Homo sapiens: one gene and its partner. The protein of the gene in region 1 purifies or fractionates together with the protein of each later gene. This does not show direct contact. Each region holds a gene or a part of one and is shown on either strand. Other genes may lie near its edges.

Evidence for each region. Proteins that work in one complex are often made in the same cells at the same time.
Region 2: the proteins of PCDHB13 (region 1) and TNFSF8 purify together in Homo sapiens (co-immunoprecipitation; one large-scale study listed by IntAct). This does not show direct contact.

The regions. Positions count from the first base shown.
Region 1 is NC_000005.10:141,211,882-141,217,480, reverse strand, and holds the start of PCDHB13 (protocadherin beta-13 precursor), read right to left. Parts: upstream 3,563-5,599; 5' UTR 3,358-3,562; coding exon 961-3,357; 3' UTR 1-960. UniProt on the Homo sapiens protein: Potential calcium-dependent cell-adhesion protein. May be involved in the establishment and maintenance of specific neuronal connections in the brain.
Region 2 is NC_000009.12:114,916,351-114,921,152, forward strand, and holds part of TNFSF8 (tumor necrosis factor ligand superfamily member 8), read right to left. Parts: intron 1,789-4,802; coding exon 1,746-1,788; intron 1-1,745.

The sequences.
Region 1 (5,599 bases):
GAAAATTGAATAGAATGAAATATATAGGTAATTTCAAATTATGTCATAAAAAGACTAAGCATTGTTCACAAGCATTTATTTCTATTAAGCTTGTGTGTTTCAAAATATGTAAAATATAATCTTAACTATTGGTTGCAGTAAAAAAAGTTTGAAAAATAGTTTCTGGTGTATATACATTAAATTATATGATAGTACAGGCAAAAATTTTTACACATTAACACACAACTCCAATTTATGCTATATGAATTATTATTTGGGCACAGGCATCTGCATTCAACTAGATTGCACTAGAGCTTTGTGACATTAATTAAAAAATTATAGCTTCATATTCCCAGATTCTGTGATTGGTCACAATATTAATGTGCCTGCACAATCCTCTCCAGGATGAATGAGGAAAGGATACTAAAAAACTGGTCTTCTGACCCTTTCGAATCAAGTGATAACACTTAGAGTTGTATCATAGGATATAGGTTTTCTGGTTTATTTTTGAAAGCAAAAAGCATATTTAAAGGTTAACTAAAAACGCACTGGATTTACAAAAAAGAAAAATGATATGTCTGAATAGGAGTCATTATTTTAAGACTAAAAAAAGAGAATCAAATGAAGAAATGCTGGAAAATTGGAATCACTTCCAAATTGCTCTATTTAATTTTACCATAAGCATAATAGTGGGTGAAGTTCAGCTAAAGATAGGGGCATGAAAAAAATGTGATTTGGTATTGCTCTTTAGGGAGGCAAATTAATTACAAATTAAGACCATCTGGGTTAAAGAATGAATTGTCACCTTTTAAGAACCAGGAATAAAGGTAAATGTTCACTTTAAAACAAAGGGAGAAAGAACATGAGAAAAATCAAGAGTAAATCCGTACAATATTACATACACACAAATTGGGGGAAATAAACATTGGCATGGAAATGCCACAAAATAAAATACCTATGGAATGTAAAAGTCAACTATGGTCACTGAATATTGAACCCAAAGTTATTGGGGAAGGTAGAATTTCCTTGTATTTCTTTCCCAGGGCACTGGGGAGGGAAGTTGGGGATAATCGGCTTCAGGAACTTGAACTCATTGGTCCCTGAGCCTCCTGCCAGACACACCTCATACTGGTAGCTCTGGGATAGGGTCCTGGTGCCGCTCATGTCCACAAGATGCCCTGGAAGGGGGCCCTCGGGCACCAAGCAGCGACCCACCGAGGCCGCCCTGCTCCTCCTACACAGCCGCACCGCCACGAACAGGAGCACCGAAAAGAGGAAGAGCGAAGACACCGAGGCCAACGCCACCACCAGGTAGACGGTGAGCAAGTCGGCCTGGGCCTGGGTCGGGGCCGCCTCCGGGAGAGGCAGGTAGGGCTGGGAGAAGCCGTCCACCAGGAGCACGTGCAGCGTGGCGGTGGCCGAGCGCGGAGGCTCGCCATTGTCCTTGACCAGCACCACCAGCCTGTGCTTGGCCGCGTCGCGCTCGCTCAGCAGCCTGGCGGTGCGCACCTCGCCATTGTGCGCCCACACGCCGAACAGACCGAGCTCCGTGGCCTTGAGCAGCTGGTACGACAGCCAGGCGTTCTGGCCCGAGTCGCCGTCCACCGCCACCACCTTGGTCACCAGGTAGCCCGGCTCGGCCGCCCGGGGCACCAGCTCGGTGCAGGGCGCGGAGCCGTTCTGCAGCGGGTACAGCACGAAGGGCGAGTTGTCGTTGGCGTCCAGCACCACCACGCGCACCAGCGCCTCGCTGCTCAGCGCCGGGGAGCCGTGGTCTGAAGCGCCCACGCGGAACTGGAACCCCTGCAGGGCCTCGTAGTCCAGAGACCTGAGGGCGAACAGGTGGCCGTTGTCCGCGTTGATGGAGACCAGGGATGTGAGGGGCAGGTGCGGGTCCTGGGGCGGCAGCAGCGAGTAGGTGACCTGGGCGTTGGTGCCTGAGTCTCTGTCTGTAGCGCTGACGCTGCGGATGTGCAGGGCGGGGCTGTTGTTCTCGCGGACGAACAGGGTGTAGGAGGTTTGGGTGAAGGCGGGAGCGTTGTCATTGACATCGGCGATCAGCACGGTCATATTGAGCTGTGTTATCAGCATAGGGGTCCCCAAGTCAGTGACAGTGATAGTGATGTTGTATTCCGCTCTGCTTTCTCTGTCTAGTGGTCTCTCCGTTAGTAGGGTGTAAAAGTTTTCCGCGGATTTCAGGAGGAAGGGTAGATCCTCCTGAATGGAGCAACTAATTTTCCCATTTTCTCCTGAATCAAGATCTGAAACACTGAAAAGTGCAACCACAGTTTCAGGCGCGTTCTCAGGTATTGGGCTGGTAAATGCAGACATGGTAACTTCTGGGGCATGGTCGTTCACATCTATCACTTGAATCAGAACGGTGCATTTTCCAGAAAAGGTTCCAGCATCTCTTGCCTCAATATTGACTTCATAGGACTGAAGTTTTTCGAAATCGAGTTGTTTTTTTAGTTCAATTTCTCCTGTCAAGGGATTGATCTTAAAGGTTTTGCCAATCTCTTCTGAAGCTTGGAAAAGTGAATAGGAAATCTCTCCGTTGACTCCTGTGTCTACATCCGTGGCAGAGACCTTCACAACCAGGAAGCCTACCGGACTGTCCTCAGAGATCTGCACTCTATAGAAAGGCTGCTCAAATTCAGGGGCATTATCGTTGACATCCAGGACTTCGATGTAGACCTGAGCAGTGCCAGATCTGGGCGGAGAGCCACCATCCAGTGCTGTGAGTGTTAACCTGAGCTCAGCTTCTTCCTCTCGGTCCAGCGCTTTGTCCAGCACCAGCTCTGGGTATTTCCTGCCATCACTGCGTTTGCGGGTGAGGACCCGAAAATAGGAGTTGGGGCTGATTATATAGTTCTCAATATTGTTTTGGCCTACATCTAAGTCTTCGGCATTCTTCAGAGGAAACGTAGTCCCAGGAGGACTGCTCTCTGATACTTTCACCAACATTTGTTTGTCCAGAAATACTGGAGAGTGGTCGTTTATGTCTATTACTTGCAGCTCAGCTTGAAAAAACTCGAAGGGACTCTCTAGCAACACTTGGAAACGTAGCACACAGGGCTCTGTGTGACCGCACAGATCCTCACGGTCCAATTTCTCATTTAGCAACAAATCCGCGGTCTCCTGATTGAGCTGCAAATGTAGTTTGTTCCCTCTGGAAACAACCCTAACCCCCCGCCTGGAGAATTCCCTCTGCTCCAGACCCAGGTCCTTTGCTAAATTGGTGACAAAGGAGCTGCCCTCAGTTTCCTCCACCACAGAATAGCTTCTAGGTTCCGCCGCGCCCGCCAGAGATAAGCCCAAAAGGAGAAAGGAAAAAAGGACTTGCCTTTGTCTGCAAATGAGCTTCCCGCTGGCCTCCATTGTTCTTGCTGGATTCAGCTTCCTGGGAGGACGGTTCTGTGGGACTGTAAAGTCCCCAGTATCTGAGGCTGTGGTTATTCTACAGATACCTCAGAAATATGCCAGTGAGTAGTCCTCTCCAGAGGACCCAGCCGTCCTCCCTTTGGCATCCAAGCTCCCCGTGGACTTCCAGGTTCTGCTGCTTTTTGCCGGTTAATGGAGCTGCAGCTGCGGTTCTGGTTTGTGCCTTCTTATCCTGCAGCGCCACCACGCGTCCTCACAGGATCTTACATTTTGTGGAATGATAATGGATGTAATATTCCCAACTCTGCCTGTATGCACCCCGAGACTATGTAAGGTTACAACACCACCGTTAATATCGCCGGACTTTAGTGAGCAGACAACTGCCCAAAGGAGAAATCACATTAGTCTTTCAACAATGATAACTGAGTTTTGGGCAGAAAGGAAATATTTAGGTAATAGTCTAGCTTGGCAAAAAGAATTTCAAATATAATTGTAGTTATCATGGACAACATTTAGATCTTTATAGTTTTATTTCCATGAACCATAGGAATAATTAGTAGCTGTGAACCTCGAACAAATTATTTAATCTCTCTGCTTTAGTTTGCTCCTCTGTAAAGTGAGGATAAGAACAGTACCTACCACATAGGGCTGTTGTGAATTCCCCACCTTAAACATGAGGAATCTAATGCAAATAGATATTAACCTTAAAAATAAGGTATATACCAAGTATAAAGCAATTTGATGCCATCAAGTAACTGAGTCTTGATGGCATAAATCCATCATAAGTCTAGCATAAATCCATTACTATAACTAGATAAACACCTCGAAATTCAAATGGTAGAAGAATACAGGAGCATGACTATCTCAGGTAGAGAGGTTATGTCCAATAATGAAAGGAAATGAACAAGGAAAGGCTGGAGAGTTTGTCTAAATAGAGACAATATCTGTAACAGCAGTGGTGATTTTGTTTCTGGGAAGGATGTCCTTTTTTATTACCTCCACTTCTAACAGCATCAATTAAAAGACATTATTTTGAAATTTTTCAAATCTCATAAAAGAGAGGAGTATAATGATCCTCCAAGGACTCAGTACTAGCTTCAACTATTATCAATGTTTTGCCATAATTCTTGACTCTATCCCTTCAACATTTTCACATCCCAGACAAACTGAATTTTCTCCCACAAATACGTCATTATACATTTCTTTAAAAGCATCATGACTTTAAATGACTCTAAAAATATGCTTAAGTACAATGCCATTATCATACCTAAAAATCAAGTTAACATTATTTAATACCCATCTATATTCAAATTCTTCCAAGTTTTTCAAAGTCATTGCTGTTGTTTCAATCAAGATCCAAAAAAGATCCACACATTGTATTTGAGTGGTAGACCTCTTAAGATTTTTCCTTGTGTAAACTTCACTCCTCTTATTTTTTGAGCCATTTATTTGTCAGAGAAATTGGATAATTTTACCCTGAGACCATGAAAGCAATTTTAGATTTTACTACTGTGAGTTTTTGTCCTTAGATTCTATCCCACCAGTGATATGCAGTAATACTAGCTTTATTAGAGTTACTGGCACTAGTTTATAATATATTTAGAACACAACTATGCAAAAATTACCTATTTTAAATATAAGAATCGGTTATATATTTTTAACAAACAATGCTTCTCCTTAACTCCCCAAAATTTCTAAAAATTTAATGATCATCTATATTTCTCTTTGATATTACACATTTAAATCTATTCTTTTTCTTAAATTTTCCTGATTCAGCAGTGCAGTATAGGTAAGAAAAACTGCTAAAAACAAACTCTCAAATCAGGAAAATATATTACAAATGTAAGCATGGGTGACTCTGGAAATATACTACAATGTAAAGAAAATAATTAACTAATAATGCCATCAAAATTATGTACTATTCCTAATCAGGACCATTAATCTTTTCTGTGAAATGATAGTTATATGTTCAGGAGACAATGAGAAGGCATAGGTTGCTCTTTCAATTTTGTTTTTTACTTAAGATTTGGGCAGATCAGAGCATTAGTAATAATAGCTGAAAATTTACCCAGAAAAGCAAGATTACTGGTTTATAAGAAAATGAAATCATAGATAAAGTTTATTTCTAAATAAAGATTGAACAGTAGTATGAATACGATAAAAACTTTTCTTCTCTTTAGTTAGGCAGAAACTTGCCAGGTGATATCCAATGACAAAAACAGTATGGAATGGGAGCAAA
Region 2 (4,802 bases), on another chromosome or scaffold:
AGCCCCTATGCTTGGCGACTTTGCATTGAAGTGCTCTTTAGGCGAGGAAACTGAGATCCAGAATGGCTAAGGTCTTATTACCTAATCAAAACTATCCTCGTCACTGAGACCGTGTTCATGTTAAAAATCCCTTCTCCCTGTCAAAAAATGAAAAGTTTCCATCTTCCTTGGAAAGTCTGGGTGGAGGTGGTGGTGGAACAGTGGGAGTGGGGAGGGGCAAGTTATATTCACTCAGAGCCTTTTGGTTTTTCCAAAGCTCCGTGTGAACGTGCATTACATGTTTAACTGAAACATCTGTCTCCAAAGCCTGCAGTGACTCCTCCAATTCATAAGCCAAATCCAGCCCACCACCTCATTTGATAAATAACGTTTTATGGAAATGCAACCGTGGTTACTTATTTGCGTGTAGTCAGCCTGGCTCAGCACTACAACAGCAGAGCTGACTAATTGCAACAGAGACATAGTGACCCCCAAAGCCTAAACGTTTACTATCTGGCCCTTCGTAGAAAAAGTTTGCTTACCCCTGCATTCTACTATGCTCCTTTTAATATTAATGTGACTGTTTACATAGACATGGTAGGAACTGAGGTCACATGCTAAGTAATTCCAGCCAAAATGAGATATTGTTGACAAGGCTATGATTATTAGTCTGCCTTGAAAGATCCAGAATCCCTGTCTTTTGGGGACTTTTGCCCCTATTTTTGAAGTCTCTGGGTGATAAACCACAGGAAAGGCATGGGCAAGGGAAACTTGAAGGACACTCCAAGTGTGATGCTGTGAGTGTGAGGAGCTGTGTCCAGTCATCTGTGTCCTCTGGTCTCAAGGACACTCTTGTGCCACTACCCTGGTGCCTACATTAACTCACTTCCTTACTTTTTGCTCTGAGCTTTCTGGCTATCCAGCTGTGTTTGCCATCTAGGTTCTAAAGGTTACAGGACTGAGATGGGAGTTGGTGTTCTTGGGCAGAAAAGACACTGTATCAGAGATGAGGACATCTTTCTGGGTTCTAGGCTTGGCTTTGTATGACCTTGGACGAGATACTTCACTTTCCCTCTCTGGGTCTTCCTTTTCCTTCTCTGAGCAATAAAAACATTAATCAGGTCATCTGAAAATTTCTCATCATCGATGTTAACTGAACTCGGCATATCATCTCTCTGAGGCTAGTAGAGACGACGTGTTAATTAGTGACTTCAATGATTGGAAATATAGGAGTGAGGAGGAAGTCTGTTTTCACAAGTCCTTGACTTCATTATGCATTTTAGCTATTACTAGTTATTTAATGATTACTATGTGCTGGTTGCCATGCCAAGCAATTTACAGATGAGATCTGAATGGCTTCTCCAATACCTTGATGAGGTGAGTATTATTATTATTCCCATTTAACAGATGAGGAGTTGAGGCTCCCCAGTGGGAAGTCAAGCCAAGATTCATTCCCCCATTTATCTGATTTCAGGTTTCAAGCATTTAACACAACACTGCCTTGCAGTCCTGCCTATGCCAGAGGTAGAATTTTCATTAGTGGGAGTGTCAAGAGCTGGTGGGAGACTTGTGGGGATGAGTTCAGGAGCTGCTAAGATGAATTCAGGTGCATCAGCTCAGTCCTGAACAGCCCTTGCCTCCACCCCTACCCACTTTACTGTTGGGTCATGTCATAGAGTTGTTTCTGGTTGATAATCAGGTTTCACACTTTATGGCATTTATCTAGATGACTTACTACACATTTACACCTAATTCCAAGATCTTACCTCCTTTGAGGGGGACGTTGTCAGGTGAGTTGGGAATGGAGTCCTGGAAGAAAAGAAAGAAAAAAGCAGCATGAGGTGTGACATTCAGTTGAAACAACTTTTTTTTTTCTTTTTCATTTTGTTGTCCTTAAAGTACTGTGCAATTTACAATTCATCCTCCACCTGAATTTTAAAAATTAATTCACTGATGTAGTTTCCAATGGGCTTTCTATCCATTTGTTTGACAATCTATTAGAAATGCAAGATGAGGATTACTGTCCCCGTTCCACAGGCAAGAGACACGGGGTTGAGTGAGATAAAATGACTTGCCTAGGGCCACATAGTTAATTTATAGAAGATCAGGGACCAGAGCTGGGACTTTTTTTTTTTTTTTAGACAAAGTTTTACTCTGTCACCCATGCTGGAGTGCAGTGGTATGATCATGGGTCACTGCAGCTTCATCCTCCTGAGTTCAAGCGATCCTCTTGCCTCAGCTTCCTGAGTAGCTGGGAGTACAGGTGCACACCACTACACTCAGCTAATTAAAAAAAGGAGTCTTGCTCTGTTGCCAGGCTGGAGTGCAGTGGCACTATCTTGGCTCACTGCAACCTCCGCCTCCCAGTTCAGGTGATTCTCCTGCCTCAGTCTCCAGAGTAGCTGGGACTACAGGCACCCACCACCACACCCAGCTAAGTTTTGTATTTTTAGTAGACACAGGGTTTCACCATATTGGCCAGGTTGGTCTCGAACTCCTGACCTTGTGGTCCACCCGCCTCAGCCTCCCAAAGTGCTGGGATTACAGGTGTGAGCTATCACACTCGGCTAGAGCCAGGACTCAACTCCCAATCTGGTGCTTTTCCCCCCTCCATATGTTTGGGTGTTTTTTTCTTTTTTTTTCCTTCTGGTCAACATGAGAATAATCAAGTATATCATAAAAGTAGATGTGTTTTTTTTTTTTCCATGTTTGATTCATCTGTGAACGTATGTTGTAAACATACCTGGGAAGGTACATCTCTATGTCTCCTGTGGTTGGAAATTCTGAATTAATTGTGTGTTTATATGCCAAGCATTGTGAGGACACCATACATAATTAAATTGGGTCCCCATCCTTATGGATTTATTACAAGTTTATATTTAAATATACAAATATGTATACACATGTAGTATACATACAAATGCATATTATATATTTAAACATTTACATAGTATATTATTTATTCTGTAATAAATATATACATAAATATTTACACAAATAAGAGGTTGATAGAAACAGATTGTCTTTTGAAGGAGGGAATCCTGGGCTGGGGATTGAAGGTGACTAAAGGGAGGTTCTAGTTCAAGGACTCTCAACAAGGAGTTAACAGAAGCAGAGAGGCACAGTTCTTTTCCCCTAATAAATTCTTCAGACACTAAGTTTCACACCCTGATTGTCCCTCCCCTTTCTCTCCAGCCATGGAGACACCCATACAATATTCTGCCAATAAGGAATGAAGTATTTTATTCATCTTTTGACCTGCCCAGGTTGGAATCTCCTGTATTGCATTGAATTAAAATATTAGTAAAGACCTAGAGAGGTGTGAGCGTGTGTATGCGAAAAAACCAACTTCCTAACCTCTACCAAAGCAAGAAATTAGCAGCCGCCCACAGCTTATTTTCTTAGTGTTCTGTATGAACACTAGGACCATCTGGAGTTCCCCTATTATTGTAACATTTCCCTGGGAGGTCTGTCATTTGCCTTCCGCTGAAAGCTTGTTTTCTTATGAATGGATCTCTTCTCTAGTGCAAGAGGTTGGTAGTGAGTCAAGGAGGTCTCCTGAAGGCAAAGCCCTGGCACAGCACCAATCTGGAGATGGGGGAAGTCAGCTTAAACATTTGGGCCCTACCTTCTCAGGGGAAGGGAGGCAAACTTGTCCTGGAAGGCCCTTCCTACTGTAACAGTCTACGACTTTGTTGCCTTAGTTGAAAGCTTTTAACCTAACAAAGCTAAGTTTTTGTAGTCTTTCAGTTATGCATGCAGTTTGCAGGAAAACTTGATATCACAAAATTCCCCTTTATGTTGCCCTTGTGAGACAACACACAACATTTTAAAATTTAATAAACAACTTACAACTTACTGCCAAGCGTGACCATTGATTAGCATGATGTGCAAATGCACTAAGAAAAATATCTGCATTGAAATGTCTTACCACAATCATCAAATTCATCAAGCTGCCCAGGGACATATACAGGGACAGTGAGAGAGGCTAGAATAGCAAACCTGGTACAGCCATCATTGCAGAGGCTGCTAGCAGTTCGGGAAGTCCTAGAGAATCATTCATGCAGCACACCTTGAATGAGCACCTGGTCTGTGGTAGGAACTACGTTAGTCACTAAAAGACATCCTATGGATTTTATGCTTTAGTCATTAAGGCAGCCATTTAAAAAATATAAATAAATGTGTAATTAGAATTGCAGGTTGTGGCAAGAGCTATGGAGGAAAAGAATCATAGTGCTTTAAGGTAGTGCTGTTAGAACTTCAATGTGCATATGAATCACCTGGGAGTCTCGTTAAAATGCAAATTCTGATTCTGCAGATTTGGGGGGAGTTTAACATTCTGCATTTTTTTCTTTTTGAGATGGAGCCTCACTCTGTCACCCAGGCTGGAGTGCAGTGGCGCAATCTCGGCTCACTGTAGCCTCCATCTCCTGGATTCGAGCAATTCCTCTACCTCAGCCTCCCCAGTAGCTGGGACTACAGGGGCCCACCACCACCCCCGGCTAATTTTTGTATTTTTAGTAGAGACGGGATTTCGCCATGTTGACCAGGCTGGTCTTGAACTCCTGACCTCTTGTGATCTGCCCGCCTGGGCCTCCCAAAGTGCTGGGATTACAAGCGTGAGCCACCGCACCTGGCCAACATTCTGTATTTCTGGCAGCTTTCGAGTAATACTGACACTCCTGGCCCACAGAACACTTTGAATAGCACAGCTGTGAGAAGTAATATCAGAGAGGAGGACCTAATTTATATGGGGGTCAAGGAAAGCCTCTTTTCTCTCTGTCACTTGAATGCATTCTGGTTTCCTAATTTCAGACATGGGA